2 separate regions of the Homo sapiens genome follow, and region 2 is linked to region 1. The links come from fine-mapping of genetic effects on gene expression. Tissue or cell type: lung. Region 1 holds a variant in brackets; the other region holds the start of a gene. All regions are shown on one strand. Distances are from middle to middle.

Region 1 (10,258 bases):
CTTCGGACCAGGGCTGCCGAGTACAGATAGCAGGTGGTTTATGTGAGGCCTGGAGCAGGGGTCATTGCAGGAGACGGGGTTGCTGTGTGCCTATAAATGGAGTGAAAAAGTGAGTGCAAAGAAATGGAAAAGTTAGGAGATGCAGCATAACCTGTGAATCATGATCCCTGACAAAGTGGGGAGGCTCATGGGTGCAGGTGTAGGTGTGTGTGTGTGTGTGTGTGTGTGTGAGATCACATGGCTGTGGACAGAGGTGGGCTGGAACCCCTAACTTCCAGGAAACTCCAGGTTCTTTTCTTCTTCTACCCATAGGTCTGCATTGTGTTTTTCTAGGGTCACTCATCTATTCATCCAACAAATATTCAACAAGCACCTGTTACATACCAGATTATTACATACATGTGGCAGTGCACGTAACTGTGAAGCTGTGTACTACAGCTGCAGGGCGAGGACTGGGGCTTTAGCTCCCACCTTGTGCAATGTGGGATCTTCTCCATCGTCATATCAAGCCACCCCACGTGTATTTAATGTAAGTTGGAACACTGTGCTTGCTACAAAAGTCAGCTTCAGAAGAAGCCCCTCCGTGGATCACCACCTCCCTACAAGCTGCAGTCCTAATCTCCTATGTCAAAATCAGGGACTGCTGCTGCCCCGGGGGGTTTAGAGATGAAGACCCAGACTCTGACTGAGGAGTCTCCCAGTGAAAGGAAGGAGGCAGAAGCCCAGTCACCAGTGACGCCACCCAGCTGAGTGGACCGCGCAGAGGGAGGCGGACGCAGGGCACTCCAACATGGACCTGAGAGGCACACACTGCAATGCAAATCCTCCACGATAGTCCACAGGATGTACTGGGAGAAACTGGAAGGCCACAGGAGAAACGTTTGCTCACGAAAACACAGGCATTTCATGTGCCTGGAGCACGGGATGAAGAATTCCTTAGACTTTGAGTGCCAAGCTAGTGCTTGGACTTTCTTCTAAAGGTCATGGGTGAGCCCTTGGGGAATGTGGAGACCACTCCGGCCTGCGATGGAGAAGGAAATTGTGCCAGAAGCTGGGAAGTCAAAGTTAACCCTCCAGGCTAGATGTAAGTAACGCGTGGGGCTGCACATACGGCTGTGGCAGAGGAAATGGGACAGAGGGATTGATTTTAGTACAGAAATCCTAATTGGGCTTAAAGTAGGTATGGGAAAACCCCTGAAAGTGTGTGCTGATCTTGGTATGTGCAGATATTATTTTCCTCCTGGGGTAAACTTTAATTCTCAAAGGAGTCTATGACCCCCAAAAAAGTCATCTCCCTACTTGAAAGATGCTTGAGTGTCTAATGGCCAGGAGCGGGTGTTGGTGGGATACCAAGCGGTGGGAGGAACACAGTATCGTCCTCAAGCCTCTGACTTCTCCTAGACAGGGTAGCTAAGAGGACTTTTCAGATATGTTGCTTTTGAGGTGTCTGTGAGGAGAGGGAGGCAGGAAACGCAGGCACACGCACTCACAGTGGACGCGTCTTTAGAAAGCTGCACATTCTCTAATTGAGTTAATTGTTCACGCACTGAATGGAGCTGTTTCTGCTCAAGCTAGGGAAAGACTTGTCAGCTGTTTCTTCACTTCCATGACCTTGGAAAATCCGCTGTCTCCACCAGACACTGATCCTTGGCACAGCCACTATTTGATACACTTAACTCTGCTCAGGATTTTAGATCTCAACCCAGGAAATGAGCTACAGTCTCACCCCAGGCAAGTACAGAACATTTTCCTAACCAGGAGAGACGCCTGTGTCACACATTCCAAAGGTAGCCAGCAGCTAAGAAAGCCGCAACAAAGGAAATCAAACAGCTCTCTCTCCCCTAAACGCTGCTTTCAGGCAAGTTCCAAACAAAAATGGAGGATGCACTGCAAATTAAAAACAAAAGCCTGCCAGTCAAAGGCAGTGTTTTTAAACACAGAAAGAGCAATACCACTGCAGGGGGCAGATAAAAGAGCTTTTGAGCATCTCAGAAGCTACTCACACACAAAAGCACCTCTGTGCCTTCAAACAGGATCTCCTAGAAGTTTCCCAAGGTTTCATAACCCAAATACCGCTGGTAGTGATGTGGTTTGGAAATTAACCTTGCTTTTCTCCCCACTGCTGTTTTACATATTAATTAAAGTGTTTTCCTCAGATCAGGAACGCCTGCAGGCTGGCTAGGTTCTGCAGAAGGTGCCTCATTTTCCTGCCGCTTCCCGCCCCGGCCCCACTTGTGCATAGTTCAATGATTAAAACTTCCCCAGGTCAGCTGTAGACGCCTCCCCTCCCTTAACTGCCATCGTGATATAGAACACACACTTTAATGTGGCTTTTAAAAAGTAATCGCTTCCCCACCCCCCAAGAAAGATAGGTCGTGCAGAGCTAATTTCGGGAAGCCATTTAGAAGAAATTGTTGAGAAGGCATTGAAGTATTTGGGTCCAACTCTGCTTACCTCATTCATGGACCTGTTTCTTTTCTTTTTTTTCTTTTCCAGTGCTTGAAATAGGTGTGCAAACAATTCACATATTATAAATACGTTGACTTGGGCCGGGTGTGGTGGCTCACGCCTGTAATCCCAGCACTTTAGGAGGCTGAGGCAGGAGGATTACTTGAGGTCAGGAGTTCCAGACAAGCCTGGCCAACATTGCAAAACCCTCTCTCTACTAAAGTACAAAAATTAGCCGGGCAAGGTGGTCCGTGCCTGTAATCTCAGCTACTCAGGAGGCTGAGGCAGGAGAATCGCTTAAACCCAGGAGATGGAAGTTGCAATGAGGCGAGATCACAACAACCCACTCCAGCCTGGGCGACAGAGCAAGACCCTGTCTCAAATAAATAACTAAAATGAAAATAAATAAATTGATTTGTTTTCATTCATATATTTTGGGGATACAATGGAGCTTAAAGTTTGAAAACCAAAACGGAGCTGGCCACCAAAGGTGTGGATTTGGTCAACAGGGTGTGGACTCCAGCAGCCCGTGTCACTCTCAGACTCCATGTCTCAATTTGAATGTTTCCATGTCACTTAAAAAGTAGAATATTCATAGTGATGTTGAAGATACAAAAGATATACCAGGATTAATTTTCTAGTCAATTTTATGTGTCTGTGACCCAAGACAATAAAAGTTAAGTCATCGTTAGTTCCTTAGTTGCTGGACACTTTAGCCCAATATACCACCTTCAATTTTGAATTATTATTTGGACTGTGTTCATGAGATTCTTGGAGTATGTTAAATCAACACATTTCTTTGTAATTATTGAGAACCTTTTGTTCCCTATAAAATCAAGTGTACGATGATGTAAACTATAAAACGCAAATTGTAGGGACAATTGGTAATCTGCAGTGAAAATAAAGTCAAAATAGCAAAGAGCAGATTATTCTCAAATTTATGTAACAGAGTTCTTACATGTGGAAGTGGATACAAGTATTAGCACATTCAGTTGATGTACTGAAAATAAAATGAAACTATTTTTCTACTTACTACTTGCTTGTGAAATCCAAAGGGGTGAATAAGAGCCAGGATTCATTGTCATGAGTGTAGGGGTGCCCTGGGAAGGAGGCCTCCATCCCACGTGTCAGTGGCGTCATCAGAAATTCCATGATCGTCGGCTTATTCTTTGCACACGTGTCTACAGGGTCCCTCCGCACACCGACTTGGTGTCCTCCAGGATGCAGAAAACCCAAATTAAACTAGTTTAATGAATAAGGAAACTAAGTGGCTCTTAGGACCATAAGCCCTGCGGTGACGCCTGCTTCAGGGCTGGAGGAGCTAAGTGTTCTCTGGTTCACCAAAGCCCCCAGTTCTTTCCGTCTGTCACTCATAGCTTCGGCTTCGTCCCCGGCTCACTGCCAGTGGTAATCAGGCTGCCCAAGAACTTCTGAAATCCACAGCCCGGTGTTTCCAAACGAATTATCAGTAGGGTTGGAATCCCTTCTCCCCAGCCCCAGCCCCAGCAAGGCCCTCCAACGCCACTGCAGTTCCCTGGATAGCAGGAAGAGGCCTGAGCCGGCTCTCCCGGAGCTCCAGGTGCAGAGTCTCCCCACATGGGAGTCAGTGTTCTCAGAGCAGCATTTGTTGACCTGAGCTAACCAAGTTCTCTAACTGAAAGCCTGGCTGTGTAAAGCCACAGATGTCTGGCATTAGAATAGCTCAAGGACAGGAGAAAAAACTGACAATCAGTCCAGAACGGCATCCCAGGACTTCTGCTCTGAGGAGAAAACAGGACTAAACCCCAGCTGAGGTCTATTTCCAACTCCAAGATTCTGCAATGTTATCTCTGTTTAAAAAGATATCCCACTTTTTGATGACAGTGTGTCTGGAATTGGTGGGTTCTTGGTCTCACTGACTTCAAGAATGCAGCTGCGGACCCTGGCGGTGAGTGTTACAGCTCTTAAAGGCGGCATGTCCGGAGTTTGTTCCTTCTAGGTGGGTTCCTGGTCTCTCTGGCTCAGGAGTGAAGCTGCAGACCTTAGCGGTAAGCTGTTACAGCTCTTAAGTCAGCGCGTCTGGAGTCGTTCGCTCCTCCCGGTGGGTTC[G/A]TGGTCTCGCTAGCCTCAGGAGTGCAGCTGCAGACCTTCGTGGTGACTGCTACAGCTCATAAAAGCAGTGTGGACCCAAAGACTGAGCAGTAGCAAGATTTATTGCAAAAGACGAATGAACAAAGCTTCCACACGACAGACACAAACCCTAACAGATTGCCACCGCTAGCTCGGAGAGCCTGCTTTTCTTCCCTTATCTGGCTCCACCCACATCCTGCTGATTGGCCCATTTTACAGAGAGCTGATTGGTCTGTTTTACAGAGAGCTGATTGGTCTGTTTTGACAGGGTGCTGATTGGTGCGTTTACAATCCTGAGCTAGACACAAAGGTTCTCCAAGTCCCCACCAGATTAGCTAGACACAGGGTGCTGATTGGTGCATTTACAAACCTTGAGCTAGATACAGAGTGCTGATTGGTGTATTCACAATCCCTTAGCTAGACATAAATGTTCTCCAAGTCCCCACCAGATCAGCTAGACACAGAGTGCTGATTGGTGCATTTACAAACCTTGAGCTAGATACAGAGTGCTGATTGGTGTATTTACAATCCCTTAGCTAGACATAAAGATTCTCCAAGTCCCCACCAGACTCAAGAGCCCAGCTGGCTTCACTCAGTGGATCCCGCCCGGGGGCTGCAGGTGGAGCTGTCTGCCAGTCCCACGCTGTGCGCCCGCACTCCTCAGCCCTTGGGCGGTTGTTGGGACTGGGCGCCGTGGAGCAGGGGGCGGCGCTCATAGGGGAGGCTCGGGCCGCCAGGAGCCCACGGCGGGGGTGCGGGGGCAGGCTCAGGCATGGCGGGCTGCAGGTCCCGAGCCCTGCCCTGCGGGGAGGCAGCTAAGGCCCGGCGAGAAATCGAGCGCAGCGCCGGTGGGCCGGCACTGCTGGGGGACCTGGCGCACCCTCCGCAGCTGCTGGCTCGGGTGCTAAGCCCCTCACTGCCCGGCCGCTCCGAGTGCGGGGCCCGCCAAGCCCACGCCCACCCGGAACTCTAGCTGGCCCGCAAGCGCCGCTCCCAGCCCTGGTTCCCGCCCGTGCCTCTCCCTCCACACCTCCCCGCAGGCTGAGGGAGCCGGCTCCTGCCTCAGCCATCCCAGGAGGGGGCTCCCACAGTGCAGCGGCGGGCTGAAGCGCTCCTCAAGCGCGGCCAGAATGGGCGCCGAGGCCGAGGAGGCACCGAGAGCGAGCAAGGCCTGTGAGGGCTGCCAGCATGCTGTCACCTCTCGACAGAGTCACAAAGCATTTACTGAATGCCTACTGTATGCCAGGCCCTTTTCTCAAGTCTGCTTAACCAGGAGTGAAGAAGGCTGACATTACCGTCCATGTCACATTCTGGTAGGAGAGGGATACAGAGAACACTACAAGTAGGTGAAATAGGTAGTACTTTAAAGAATGAGAACAACATGGAAAAGGAGGCTATGAAATACTGAGAATATGGCTGGAGTTTTCATTTTAGATAAGTAAATAGCCAAAGAAGCCTTGACTGAGGAAGCAGCCAGCCCTGTAAGAAAGGAGACCCCTGCCATGGTCCTGAGACAAGGGTTTGAGTGGTTTCCGCAGGAGGCATTTCCAGGAGGGGAAGGAGGGAAACAACGAGGGAAAAGTACAAGGTGTGCTCACCCCTGAATGAGTCCCCGGGGCAACCCGGATCCACCTGTCCAGGCTCCTCTGAGCACGTGGGGAGCACGTGGAGAGGGAGTGGGGGAGTCGTGGGGGAGCGTGGGCAGCGCTTGGGGGAGCCGTTGGGGACTTGGGGAGAGCGTGGAGAGCCGTGGGGAGGGCGTGGCGGAGCTGTCGGGGAGCCGTGGGGGCGCGCGTGGTCAGCACTTGGGGAGCGCATTGAGAGCCGTGGGGAGCACTGAGGGAGGATGCGGTGGCCACGGCTGCGTGGCACCCCCAGGCCATGGCCAGGAGACCCTCGGGCGGCGCAGGTGCCGGAAGCAGCGCCATCCGTGCTATGGACGGGTCCCCCCAATTGGCAGCGGTCTCGGGGGTGAGCCAGAGGATGGGGTGACTGAGAGGTGGCCGATGTGGGGATGGTGGTTTTCAAATAGAGGCGAGATCGGAGCAGGAGCTGGGAACCAAACCAGAAGGTTTTCAGGACGTGGTTAGACTTTGAAGCGGCCTAAGGCTGTGGCACATCTGACCCACTTTCTCACCAACATTGCGGTGGCTTCTTAGTAAGGAACGGGCTGAAAGGGGTAAGGGAAAGGGTGGGGGCAGGGCACTGGGAAACCACCATTGCCAACATCCAGGCCAGGCAGGGGCGGCAGGGGCTGGGCCAGGGCGCAGGGGACCCGACTCTTGCTGCGGCCGCTGGGAAGAGGGAATTGCCATAGAGCCAGAACAGGAGGCGCTGGGGCAGGGCTCTGCTGTGGGGCGGGGTGCTCAGTTTGGGACAGTGTTGACACTTTTGGAGATCATCAGCCATCCCAGTAGGTGACTCCAGGAGGCCACTGGATATACAGCTCTGGGAACAAAAAACGGAATCATCAGCCTATTTACAACTCTGGAATGGATGAGATGGCTGTGACGACTGGCAGCAGCTGCGCCTGAGCCCTCAGCACCTGCAGGGTCCCATGGGAGGTGAGGGCTGTAAGGGAGCAAGCAACTCCTCTCCCTGGAGCAGGCGGGCAGGGAGAACAGACCGCCACTGTGCTGCTCTCAAAACCAAGTGCATGGCCGGTCGGGGTGGCTCAGGCCTGTAATCCCAGCACTTTGGGAGGCTGAGGCAGGCAGGTCACCTGAGGTCAGGAGTTCAAGACCAGCCTGGCCAACATGGTGAACCCCCTGACTAATAAAAATACAAAAATTAGGTGTGGTGGCACACACCTGTAATCCCAGCTACTCGGGAGGCTGAGGCAGGAGAATCGCTTGAACCCAAGACGCAGAGGTTTCAGTGAGCCGAAATTGTGCCACTGCACTCCAACCTGAGCCACAGAGTGAGACTTTGTCTTAAAAAAAAAAAAAAAAAAAGTGCAGAGTTGCTTTACATCTTTACATAGAGGAGAATGGTGTAAGACGCAGCTATTTGGTCAAACCTATGTGATTGAAACATTTGCATAGAAAGAGAGAGAGAAAGGATGGGAGAAGAAAATATAAACTAAATAACTCTCCTTTTTCTTTGCTGGCTTGTGTGTTTGCATTTATGAACACCAACATGAAATTTTGAACCTTAAATCTAGTATAAAAATATGGAACAGCCAGCTTCCTAGAGTGAGGGCACCATTCTGTGTTTGCTGCCGGTGGACCTAGTGTGGGTTTTGGCGCCAATGTCCTTTTCTGCTAAAACAACTTGGCCTCTTGGAAGGAAACTTGGACTCTGTTGCCCTGACTCAAACTGTTGTTTCATTTCTTATGATGTCTCCTCATGTTAAAAAAAAAAAGAATGTGGACATTATGGGTTTAAACATAATTTTGAATGAATGAGGAAATTCTGGTAGAGGGTTTGTCATAATGCAGTATCAATTGGTTAGGTCTTCTAAAGAAACATGTAGGGTTCTCTTAGGAACTGGTTCATTAAATCTAAAAGGCAAAAAAATTAAAACACACTTTTGATATATTTGTTGGAGTTACATATAATCATATCTTTCAAGAGCAGATGTGCCAAAATATACACAACAGAGTGTAGCTGGGTGACCCGAACTGACCACGAAAGTCATTTATCAAAATTCAAAGTTAGTTCCCCACAGGCCTGAATTTTCAGACCTACACACAATTCCACAAACAAATGATGGTAAAGTCCCAAACACCACATTCTTGGAGGGATCCAATGCTATTGGCACTGATGCTTTAATCAGAAAGAGGCTCAAACCCACTGGAGTTAAGCTCTCTGAAAGTCTTTGCTCCTTGGCAACCACGAGCAAACCTCTACAGCTGACTTTTTTAGAGTATTTTTTACATTTTTAAAAGGATTATTTCTGAATTATAAAACCACCGTTACCACCTTATTCTTGTAACTCTAACTTATTATTTTGAGTCAATTTATAAAACTTGATTCATGAGAGTCAAGATTCAGGGTAGGCCAGACAGTCACTCATTCCTACCCTCAAAGAGCATACACTCAAATAGAGAATGAAACACGTGCCCCAAGTCAGAGGTAAATATTATAAGCAAAAGCCAAAGTGTTCTGGGTCAAACACTTTTTGGGGGGTCAGTGAGGTCTTCATGCAGGGGTAACAGTGGAGAAAGGCCTTCAAGGATGGGGAAGATTTTCCCAGGCAGAGTTAAGAACAAAGAGAAAGCAGTTTGCCAGGAGACAGGGAAGCAAGTGTGCAGGGAGTGAATTTGAGGCCTTCCTAACTCTGGGTGTGACAGCAGAGGGGACCTGCCCATGAGCTGTCCGAGATGCAGCCAAAGGTTTCACCGCCCACGTGATAAGGGGCTAGAACACTGAAGTGTAGAATTTGGACTTTATTCAGTAAGAACGGGGAAGTACTGGGGGTCCCTGAGTAGAGAAGTGGGATCCTGCAAGCTGAGCATCACAATGATTCGTCAGGTGATGTCTCAGAGTTTCTCTGAATGGCACATAAACCAGAGACAGGAAGGTGAGTCCAGCCGTTTCTGTGGCCCAGCAAGAAGTAACAAGTAATAAGTAAAGTGCTATCAGTGGGAATGGCAAGGGAGGGGCGGTTACAAGTCACATTTCAGACAGGAGTTGATTGGATGTGGGGAGGGCCCAAGGATGTGGGGAGGGAGCTGTCAGAAATAAGTGGCCCTCTAAATTTTAGCCCCAGTGACTTAGAGAAAATGGTCAAGAGATGGAATTGGTTTTCAGGGAAGACACTGATCCATTCTGGACATGTTGAATTTAAGATGCCATTAGGAAAACCAAATTAAGGCACCTTGCAGGGAAATTGCACATGTAACATCCTGGCTTCTGGGATTTGAGAGGTGGCTGCAAAGAGAGAAAGGCAGTAAGGGATCTCCAGAGAAGGAGATCACACAGGAAGGAAGTGAGGGATGGGAAGTCATTGTTGGGAAGTTGAGGGTCAAGGACATTTAGAGAGCAGAGGGAGAAAGAAGGGGTGGCCATTGCACTAGCCAAAGAAAATGTTCAGCCACTCGCCCTGCAGGGAAGGCGAGGGGCAGGGTGGCTGCGCATAGATGTGGAATTAGCCGGACTCAGGGTGAAGCCATGATTCTGCTAGTGTGGTCTTGTAACCTGGGACATCTATCTGAGCGCCCTGTCAGCGCTTCTCTGCATTGTAAATGGGAGTTGTTGCAAGGGTGAAATAAGACGTAAGGTGTTTGGTGCAAGGTCTTGTGACAACTAGCACTAAGGAATGGTGCCTATGACCTTTATTAGGCAGGAAGGAGTCAACAGAGTGAGCTGCTGCTGCAGGGGGTTGGGAGCTCTTGCAACGGTGGCATCGAGAAGGTTGTCAACACAGCCCTGTCAACGGCTGAGGGTGGCAGAGTCCATATTGCAAAGGAGCACGGCATAAGTGGCGAGGCAAGAAGTAGATGGATGTTCTATTTTTTCCTTTCTCTATCTGGACAAAGGTCTTTTTCCTTCCAAGGTGTAGCTGGATTTTCTCTCTATAGAGCTTCCCTGGGGCGGTTCCATTTTCTAGTGTCTCCATGAGTCTTTGTTCTTTATATGAGGTCCCAATGATGCCATCCACTCATTTGCTTTCTCACAGGCATGTTTTCCACCAGCCACCCACGCTGATTAGCTTGAGAGTGACTCAAGGCAGGAACGATGCCCTTGTCGTAGAACAGCC
Region 2 (10,258 bases), 330 kb before region 1:
GATGTTATATGGAGGTGGAGCCTGTGGGGGGTGATTAGGTCATGAGGGAGGAGGGCTAATGAAATCTCATTCCAATTTTAGAACACGTGCTGCAGAAGCAAACACGTCATGAAATCTCCTATGTTGAAATGCCATCCTCCAGGTGATGTTACTTGGAGGTGGCACCTGTGGAAAGTGATTAGGCCATGAGGGAGGAGGTCTCATGAATGGGGTTCATGAGCTTATGAAAGAGGCCCAACAGAGCTCACTTGCCTCTTCCACCATGTAAAGACACAGTGAGAAGACGGCCCTCTAGGAACCAGGAAGCGGGCTCTCACCAGACACCGAGTCTGTCGGTGATTTTCTCCTGGATTTCCCAAACTCCAGAGCTGTGAGGAACCAATTTCTGTTGTTAGAAACGACCCAGCTTATGGGATTTTGTTATAGCACCCAAATGGACTTAGGCCTTGTTTTATGATTTCAAACATGACAGGAGCAAGTTGATCTACATTAATTGACCTATCTAATTAGTCTTTTCCTGGAATAAAGTTTCTCAGAAAGTGGGTATAAAATCTTAGAGCAGTGATTACTTTATGGGTAAATAGGCAAATATAATTTTCATTTCAACACAGTTACTTTCAGGGTGAAATTGGCTACTATTGATAATGACAACAGGACAACAGATAGAAAACCAGGATTGTCCTGGACACCATGGAAAGTTCTGGAAAGGAAATTAGAAACAAGATGAACAGAGAAAAGAAAGACACAAGGATATGCTGAAACATTTTGAAACACTGTCACAATGACTAGTAGAGGAACATACTAGTATGTAGTAAACAAACTTAAGCTCACTGAAAAAGATGGAGTAAAAACATAAGCGTAGGAAACAGCCAGTCTCTAGAACAGTAAACATCCCTGTAAATAGGCCACTGCTGTGACCACAGGGCAGGAGGGCAAACAAACAATTGCATGTATCCACATTGTAGAAAGAACATCAGGTTCAGAATGATTCATTCATACAACTCTGTCTCGGCGTGAAGGATTCACACATATACACAGACAAGAAGATAGGAGACGGCCAGGCGCGGTGGCTCAGGCCTGTATGTAATCCCAGCACTTTGGGAGGCCGAGGCGGGTGTATCATGAGGTCAGGAGATCGAGACCATCCTGGCTAACACGGTGAAACCCCGTCTCTACTAAAAAAAAATACAAAAAATTAGCCGGGCGTGGTGGCAGGTGCCTATAGTCCCAGCTATTCGGCAGGCTGAGGCAGGAGAATGGCGTGAACCTGGGAGGCAGAGCTTGCAGTGAGCCAAGATCGCACCACTGCACTCCAGCCTGGGTGACACAGCGAGACTCTGTCTCAAAAAAAAAAAAAAAAAAAAAAAAGACAGAAAAGAAGATAGGAGACGTCTCAGCTGCACCATGGACAAGCCTCTCCAGGCATAATCTTCAGTTTATCCTAAGAATATATTAACCGGCAACTTGTTTTCTGATTATTCACTAAAGTCAACTCAGTTATAAAACAACAGACAGTTTACAAAGATAAGGATCATAGAGTGACAGGAGGGGAAGCCACCTAAAGAAGGCATTGATGATCAAGGATAGAAAATTGCAAAGCAGATGTAGAGGGGTCAAGGAATATTATATCTTGAGTACAGTAAAGGGGGGTGGATGAGTTATAATTCCATCTTGCTGCCCTCAGCTCTATTGATTCTTCGGCTCCTTAAATATGAAAATAGAAGAAAGGCAAACACTTAACAGGTATTTTTAAAAATCTGGATGGGCTAAGCTAAATCCATATGGGCCCATTCCACTTGATATGCAGGTGAGCACATAGTCCTTTCACGGCAATGGCAAAGGTGAAGTTACACCTGTATTGCTTTCTTGGAGCCCTGGGAAATATTGGTCACCTGAACTCCTCAAAAACAAGTGTGGAGAAAGGGAAGTGAGCAACAAGGTACCTGGTGTCATTGTCCTGGTAGAAGCACTGCGGGGAGGAGTCCTGCAAGCTGCAATCAGCTGAGTCAGGGAAGGACAGGACAGAGGCCCTGGCCAAGTTTCCTTTAAGAAAATAGCAATTTTCTCCCACAAGTAACGTGACATTCAATTTCACCCAATATCCACACCTGACTTTTGAAGGTCAGAGAACTGACAGTGTGTTTTATTTTGTCAGCAGTCAAAGAATACGGGGAATGTGGGAGAGTACTATTATGCCTGGTTTTTTTGTTTTGTTCTGTTTTGTTTTTTAGACTGAGTCTCAGTCTGTTGCCCAGGCTGGAGTGCAATGGTGCAATCTCAGCTCACTGCAACCTCTGCCTCCTGGGTTCAAGCTATTCTCCTGCCTCAGTCTCCTGAGTAGCTGGGATTACAGGCATGCACCACCACACTGGCTAATTTTTTTGTGTTTTTAGTAGAGGTGCGGTTTCACCATGTTGGCTAAGCTGGTCTGACCTCAGCTGATCAGCCCACCTTGGCCTCCCAAAGTGCTGCTGGGATTACAGTGTGAGCCACCCCGCCCAGCCGATTATTAGACCTGTTTTATGATGTACAATTTGATTTAAGAAATCTTAAGGAAAAACAGCAAATGCAAGATATTTAATGCAAAGCAGAGATAGTTTTCCTTTAGTAGAATTGTCTTAACAATCATCATACTGTCTTCCACAATGGTTGAACTAATTTACATTCCCACCAACAGCATCAACACGTTCCTATTTCTCCACATCCTTTCCAGCATCTGTTGTTTCCTGACTTTTTAATGATCGCCATTCTAACTTGCGCCATTCTAACTGGTGAGACGGTATCTCATTGTGGTTTTGATTTGCATTTCTCTAACGACCAGTGATGAAGAGCTTTTTTTCATGTTTGTTGGCCACATAAATGTCTTCTTTAGAGAAGTGTCTGTTCATATCCTTTGTCCACTTTTTGATGGGGTTGTTTTTTTTTTTCTTGTAAATTTGTTTAAGTTCCTTGTAGATTCTGGATATTAGCCGTTTGTTAGATGGATAGATTGCACAAATTTTCTCCCATTCTGTAGGTTGCCTGTTCACTCTGACAATAGTTCTTTTTGCTGTGCAGAAGCTCTTTAGTTTAATTAGATCCCACTTGTCAATTTTGGCTTTTGTTGCCATTACTTTTGGTGTTTTAATCATGAAGTCTTTGCCCATGCCTATGTCCTGAAAGATATTGCCTAGGTTTTCTTCTAGGCTTTTTATGGTGGTTTGAGGTCTTATGTTTAAGTCTTTAACACCATGGAATACTATGCAGCCATAAAAACGGATGAGTTTATGTCTTTTGCAGGGACATGGATGAAGCTGGAAACCATCATTCTCAGCAAACTAACACAGGAACAGAAAACCAAACACTGCATGTTCTCACTCATAAATGGGAGTTGAACAATGAGAACACATAGAAACAGGGAGGGGGACATCACACACCTGGGCCTGTTGAGGGGAAGAATAGCATTAGGAGAAATACCTAATGTAGATGACAGGTTGATAGGTGCAGCAAACCACCATGGCATGTGTATACCTATGTATCAAACCTGCACGTTCTGCACATATATACCAGAATTTAAACTACAATAATAATTTTAAAAATCACTAAACAACAACAACAACAACTAAAAACCATTCATCATATTGTGTCCTGAATTGGTTCCTTCCAGTGGGTTCTTGGTCTCGCTGACTTCAAGAATGAAGCCGCAGACCCTCGTGGTGAGTGTTACAGTTCTTAAAGATGGTGTGTCTGGAGTTTGTTCCTTTAGATGTTCAAATGTGTCCAGAGTTTCTTCCTTCTGGTGGGTTCGTGGTCTTGCTGACTTCAGGAGTGAAGCCACAGACCTTCGCAGTGAGTGTTAAAGCTCTTAAGGGTGGTGCAGAGCCAAAGAGCAGCAAGATTTATTGTGAAGAGCGAAAGAACAAAGCTTCCACAGCGTGGAAGGGGACCCCCGCGGGTGGTCATTGGTGGCTCTGGTGGCCAGCTTTTATTCCCTTATTTGGCCCTACCCACGTCCTGCTGATTGGTCCATTTTACAGAGTGCTGATTGGTGTGTTAACAATCCTTTAGCTAGACAGAAAAGTTCTCCAAGCCCCTACTCGACCCAGGAAGTCCAGCTGGCTTCACCTCTCAGTATTATCTCCCCTAGCCAATCAAAAACGTTTAGGGTACCAGATATGGTAGCTCACTCCTGTAATTCCAGCATTTTGGGAGGCTGAGGCTGGCAAATTGCTTGATCTCAGGAGTTTTAGACCAGCCTGGGAACATGGCAAAACGCTGTCTCAAAAAAAAAAAAAAAAAAAAATTGAAGGGTGTGATGGCCTGCGCCTGTAGTCTGGCTACTTGGGGGTAGGGGACTGGAGGTAGGGGAGTGAGGGTAGGGGACTGGGGGTAGGGGACTGAGGTGAGGGTTTCTCTTGAGGCCCAGAATTCGAGGCTGCAGTGAGCTATGATTATGTCATTCCATCCCAGCCTGGGTGACAAAGTGAGACCCAGTCTCAAAAAAAAAAAAAAAGAAAAGAAAAGAAAAAAAAAAGTTTAGGGCACTATTATTTCCTAAATGTAATTATAAACTGAATTCCTTGGAAATATTCATTTGAATTGACTAAAACATGATAATATTATGTCAATTTACGTTTCTAAATGTATTTTTATTATTTTCATCCTTATTAGATTATTTCCTAGCTGCTTTCAAATTAGTAATCATAATTATGCAAAAACAAACGTAAGTCATCAAAAGGTAGGCATGTCAGCATTAAACCTGCTATTTTTAGGATAAGATCCACTTTCCGTGAAGTTTGTTTTATTGCTTCCTAGTTCTCTGTGCAGAAATGTGCTCCGGGAGGCCTGCCCTGCTCCGCCCAGCTGTCAATCTGCTGCGCGTTTCCCTCACCAGCTACTGCTTCCTCCTGGGCCTCCCGGCATTCACCAGCCAGGAGGCAGAACTTGGCCTCCCTTAATCCTGAATAGGCATGCAGGGTTACATGCTAGACACAAAGGAAGCCACAGCCAGCAGAAGGCGAGCCGACAAGAACAAGGAAATGGTTCTGCCGTCACATCCCCTGGAATCTCTGTGCCTTGGTGTCTCCGTTGGTAAAGACAGGATGTCCTAGATCTCCAAGGTTTCTTGAAAAACTAAAACCCATTATTGTTTAATGCCTTCTAGAAGTTGCCTAGGAAACACTTCTTAGAAAAGATTCACAAACAGACCTGGAATGAATCCTTCTCGCTCTTCATACACTGAGACAGGTTGAAATCTAAGACCATGGCAGGGAGAAGCCGCACGCGGAGTCGCACTGTCAGGATCCAGGATCGGTAGGAAACAGGCTCTGTGCCCTGCTCTGGCACCAGCCGGGCTGGCCCTTATCTGAATCCATTCCAAATGCTTGACGCTACCTTAAGCCACAGAACTCAGAATTAGATATAATAGGCGAGGCAAATGCTCACTATTCATGATACAAGATAAATCCTGATAAGGATAATAAAAGTAGAAGTTATCTGTGATTAGCTTTAAACAAAGCTTTGCTGCCTTGAAAACACTTTCTTTTCCCATATCTATATCATTTTCTCCCACGGTAATTTCAAATCATGACCTTTTATTTGGAATTTGAGCTCTGTACTTTCCCCTCTAAATGAACTATCCTTAGAAACATTAATTATCTTTGAAAGCATAATTTCAGTAGCAGCAAAAGAATTCACTGTAATTTAAAAATTCTAGTATTGGTTATTTCTATATTTTACTAATACAACTAACGCTGTCATAAGCACCCTTGTGATAACCCCTTGCTTCAAGACTATTTCTTATGTTAAATTACCATAATTTTTTTTTTTTAATTCATGCATTCAGATCTTAATCAGATTGCAAGTTCTTCAGGCTTGGAACCATATCACCACAATGAACAGCCAAGTATAAAGGGTCCCTGGGGAAACCCCAACCGGCCTGCGCCCTGGGAGAATGGGGTGGAGCCACGGAAGTTCACGCGCTTTGCAGAGGGGAGGAGCCTGGCCTCTCCTGATCCTGGATAGTACCTGAGATTCAATCGCTGAGGCGGGAAAACCCGCTAGCAGGACTGTTGCTTTGCTGAGAGTCCCTGTTTCCCTTTTTTTCCTTTTGGCCCGATAAATTCCATTTTTCTCACCCTTCAAAATCTCTGTGACCCTAATCTCTCATGGCCATGTGACATGGGCCCTAAAGAGAAAGTCCTACAACAATAGCTTTCATATGATAATATCAGTGATAAGCTGTCGTTTACAATGGACGCCTCTCAGGAAGGTGTCCCTCAATAACTTGAACATTTAAAAAATTAAAAGATTGATTGTAGAGAGTCCACCTATGAAATGAGCACATATTAGGGCAGAGCGAGAAAATCAACGTAAAGAAACAGAGCAGCTGGCATGTCTACAAAACTCAACTTGAACATAGTGGGGGATATTAGCATAACCGAAGAAAACCGCTGTCAGCAGTTTGGGAGGGAAGGACTGGGTCTGAACACACAGACAAATTATAGCAAGAGCCACCAAGGTGGACGTTGCTTACCCAGTGCTCATGGAGTGAGTCAGAGCCCAAAGTATTCTTCCCCTGAGCAAAGCCATCTCTATTGTCAGATGCAGAAGCCCCAGCCAGGGGCCCGGAGATGCCTGGATTCTTCTAAATCCTGCAGGTCTTCGAGGCCTCTTGCAACTGTAATTGAGTTTCCTGTGTAGGTGCTCAGGGGAGAGAAAGCTCGGTTATTGAGACTTTCATTCTCCTGGACTTTGTAGAGTGATTTCTCATTGAATTTAAGAAATAACACACAGTCATTCAATTAGCAAAGCTTTAGCATGCAGCAGCTCTTCGCCAGGTCTTATGCCAGGCCCTGGGGATGAAAGGACGAACAAGATAACCCTGCCCTCAGGGAGCTTCCAGTCCAAAGAAACCCAGGAGGCTCAACACAATGTGATGATTTCTGTGACGTGGTTAAGTCCGGGGGGCCATAAAAAGCGGGGCCTCTAACCAGGTCTGTGGGCAGGCGAGCACTGGAGAAAGTTTCTATGAAGAGACAGCGTATCTGGATGAAAGCACACAGAAGAGTGTAAATTAGTCAGGTAAATGAATGAGGATGAGAGACCAGGGCTACGCAATGAGGAAGAAGTGGCTTCCAGGTAGAAAACAGGTGTGAGCCATTTTGTCCTCAAGAATCTACAAACTGTTGTGTGTGGACGGGGCACAGGTATGAAGTTATAGACCAGTAAGAGATGGGGCTAGACACACAGGCATGGAGACTCCTCCCCAGCCATGTGCAGGAGATCACTCTAAGGTTTGTGAGCAAGGAAGTCACCTACCATTTACTTCTGCAAAGGTCTCTATCATTACAGGGTGACTACTCTGCCCAGTACTATTGTAAATACTTCCCATACATTGAGCTGCACACTGGGGCTTATTATTCTCATTTTACTGCTGAGAAACTGAGTCCCTACCTCTTGGGCCCTTGCCCAGAGCCACACATGTGGCAGCTGCAGAGCTGGTGCCTTGACTTGGGTCCCCTGAGCCTGGAGTCTTGTGCACACAACTGCCGTCATGCTACACTGCCAGCGGGCAGGTAGACTGAGACCAGGGCATGGCCCCTCATCTGCATGTAAGCAAGGCTGCTGCTTCTCTGTGTGGGTGATGCTGGTAGGGTTTCCTAACCCAGGCCAACAATGAAAACATTAAGTAACACTGGGTTCAGGGCCACCCATTGCAAAATACGTTGGTAAGATCCTGTTAGGTCTAAATTGATCTGTTTTTTAATGGCTCAGTTTCAGCTCCAGGCTTCAGCAGATGTGTCGTTGAGGCGGTGTAAGATGAAAGTACATATGGCCGAGGCCGTGAGCTAAATGCAGCAGTGGGCTGTGTCTGGAGAAGACAGCCTTTTGAAGTGTGTTGAAGAATAGTTAATGGCAAGAGAGAGTGCTTTGGACACATTGTGTGGTTTTTAAAGAAGGCTATAAAATTGATATGCTGTATAGTGGACATTGTGTTTCACATGTACACACCCAATGTATAAATAGAAAAACACAGGAAAAGATTATATCAAAATACAGAGTGGCAGACTTATACATGATTTTAGCTTTCTTCTATTTTCCACATTTTTTTATGATAAACACGCACTGTTTTGTATATTCAGGAATATTTTTTCTCCAAGAAGTTGTCACCAGAAACTTAAGAAAAAGCCTTTTTATTGAAATATGCATTTAAAAAGTGCACAAATGAAAATTTTACAGCTTGACAAGGCCCCAGAGTCAGCCCATGATGTAGCCGGTGCCCAGGTCTACCTAGGAGGAGAATATTACCACCCTTTCCAGAAGCTTCAGGCTCTGCAAAGATAAATTCTGATGCCACAAATAGTTTGCCTGTTTCTGAAGTTTATATAAGTGGAGTGCAGTGCAGTGTGTACCCTTTGGCATGTAGCTGATTTACATCAACACTGTGCTTATGAGGATTCTCCTGTGTTCCTGCAAGCGGCAATCATGTTTCCTTCTCTTTGCTACATCATGCTCCACTGTATGAACATGCTGCATTGAGATTGTTCCCGCCATGACTAGCTGGGCCCAGTTAATGCAAGTGCTCCACTTTAATAAGATTTTCAGAGTTTTCCAAAATGATTCTACCACATTACACCCTTGCTAACCATGCAGGTGAGTACTAGTTGCTCCACATTTTTACAGACACCTGTGTTCATTTTGCTCTTTCTGGTGGGTATCTAATGGGATTGTAGTGTGATTTCAATTTGCAATTTCTTCATGACAAATGAAGTTATGCACCTTTTCATATTGATGGCAGCGGCCATCACAGCAGTTGCAGCAGGGAGGCGCAGCTAGGGCTGCACACTCCATGGGGCCAGTGGACCCTGCCCCTTCTGAGTTGGGGCGGGAACTCCCTGGGTGCTGTTGCAGCCACCCAAACTGCAGCTGCAGACCCAGGCCTCCTGCTCTACAGAGTAGGCAGGAGCTGGGAACAAGCAGGAACCCTGCCCCTTTAGAGTCAGTGGGGGTAGGGAGCTCCTGGGTGCAGCCCAGGCACAGGACCCAGGCATCTCTGCAGCCTGTACCCATGGGGTCCTCAGGAAGGAACCCCCCATGTCCCTGCAGTCTCAGGAGTATCTTCCCCCACTGCCTGGCCTCTCTTTGTGCCACGAGCCTGCTCCCATCTCAGAGTAGGGATTGGGGCCAAGCCCCAAGGGCCATGAATGGCAGTGGGAGGCAGATTGATTCCTGAATGGAAATGGGCAGGTCCCCATGAAGGCCCCCCTTCAGGCTAGGGAGGGCCTGAAGGCTGGAGTGGGGACTCATGGTGCCTCTTCCAGCCCCACCCATGGCTGCCCATGGACCAATCAGCACGCATTTCCACCCCTCTGAGGTCCATAAAAGCCCTGGGCTCAGCCAGAGCAGGGCAGAGGATGGCCAGAGGACCAAGAGGGCAGAAAGAAGAGGAGACAACCAGCTGCAGAGAGGAGTACCCTCTCTGCTGATAGTTGGAGATGATGTGACAACCAGTTGCAGAGAGCAGCTACCATCTCTGATGAGAACTGCTGTGGGCAGAGATAAGCCACCCTCTCCAGGGCCTCCTCTCCGCTGAGAGCTGCAGACATCTGGAGGACTAGTTGAGAGGAGCTACCCTCTCCAGGGCCTCCTCTCTGCTGAGAACTGAACACTCAACAGATGGCCTGCCTGCAGAGAGGAGCTACCCACTGCAAGTCTCCTCTGAGCTATTCTAACACTCAATAAAGTTCATCTTCATCTTGTGCACCCTTCACTTGTCTGCATAACTCCTTCTTCCTGGACACAGGACAAGAGCTTGGGTAAAGGTGCTGTGGCCACAGAGGTTTCTGGCCAGAAAAATCGACACCCCAAACATCCCATAACAATATGGTTAATGGCTATGTGGATATTATCTTTTGTAATGTGACTTGATGGTTTTTTTTTAAAACCAATCTTTCCATTGACTTAATTGTCTATGTCTTACTGATTTGTAGATCTTGTTTATATCTTCCAGATACAAGTCTTTTGTATAATATGGGTAATTGCAAATATCTTGTTCTGCTCTGTTGATTGCCATTTCACCCTCTTACTGGTCTATTTTGATGAACTGAATTTATTCATTTTAATGCAGTCCAATTTATCATTTTTGTAAAAGATTCATGTTTTGGGGATCCTATTTAATAAATAGTTTTCTACTCAAAGTCATAAAGATATTCTGTTTTACTCTAAAAAGTGCTTTGTTTCACCTTTTACATTATGATATATTATCCATCAGGAATTG

Alleles and levels. Positions count from the first base shown, and alleles are read on the strand shown. Sizes are in standard deviations (SD) of each study's normalised expression.
In carriers of allele G in region 1, the expression in lung of the gene that starts at base 5,180 in region 2 tends to be higher than with A alone (small effect, 0.32 SD a copy in GTEx).

What was found. PIP is the estimated chance that this variant, and not a neighbour inherited with it, causes the effect. A credible set is the group of variants that fine-mapping cannot tell apart.
Region 2: LINC00399 starts here. The variant in region 1 is the best candidate, but not a certain one, in a credible set for the expression of LINC00399 in lung (GTEx, PIP 0.59).

The regions. Positions count from the first base shown.
Region 1 is chr13:109,727,462-109,737,719 of GRCh38, forward strand. LINC00676 (long intergenic non-protein coding RNA 676) reads left to right here and starts at 813. Exons shown (of 3, transcript NR_103846.1): 1 at 813-1,084; 2 at 1,572-1,731; 3 at 2,497-2,573. RefSeq lists an enhancer at 5,861-6,362. The variant G/A (reference allele first, on the strand shown) is at 4,537.
Region 2 is chr13:109,395,517-109,405,774 of GRCh38, forward strand. It overlaps LINC00399 (long intergenic non-protein coding RNA 399), which reads left to right and starts at 5,180. Exons shown (of 2, transcript NR_126361.1): 1 at 5,180-5,292; 2 at 5,825-6,125. LOC105370359 (a long non-coding RNA gene) reads right to left here and starts at 8,788. Exons shown (of 3, transcript XR_001750017.3): 1 at 7,435-8,788; 2 at 6,515-7,025; 3 at 2,917-5,373.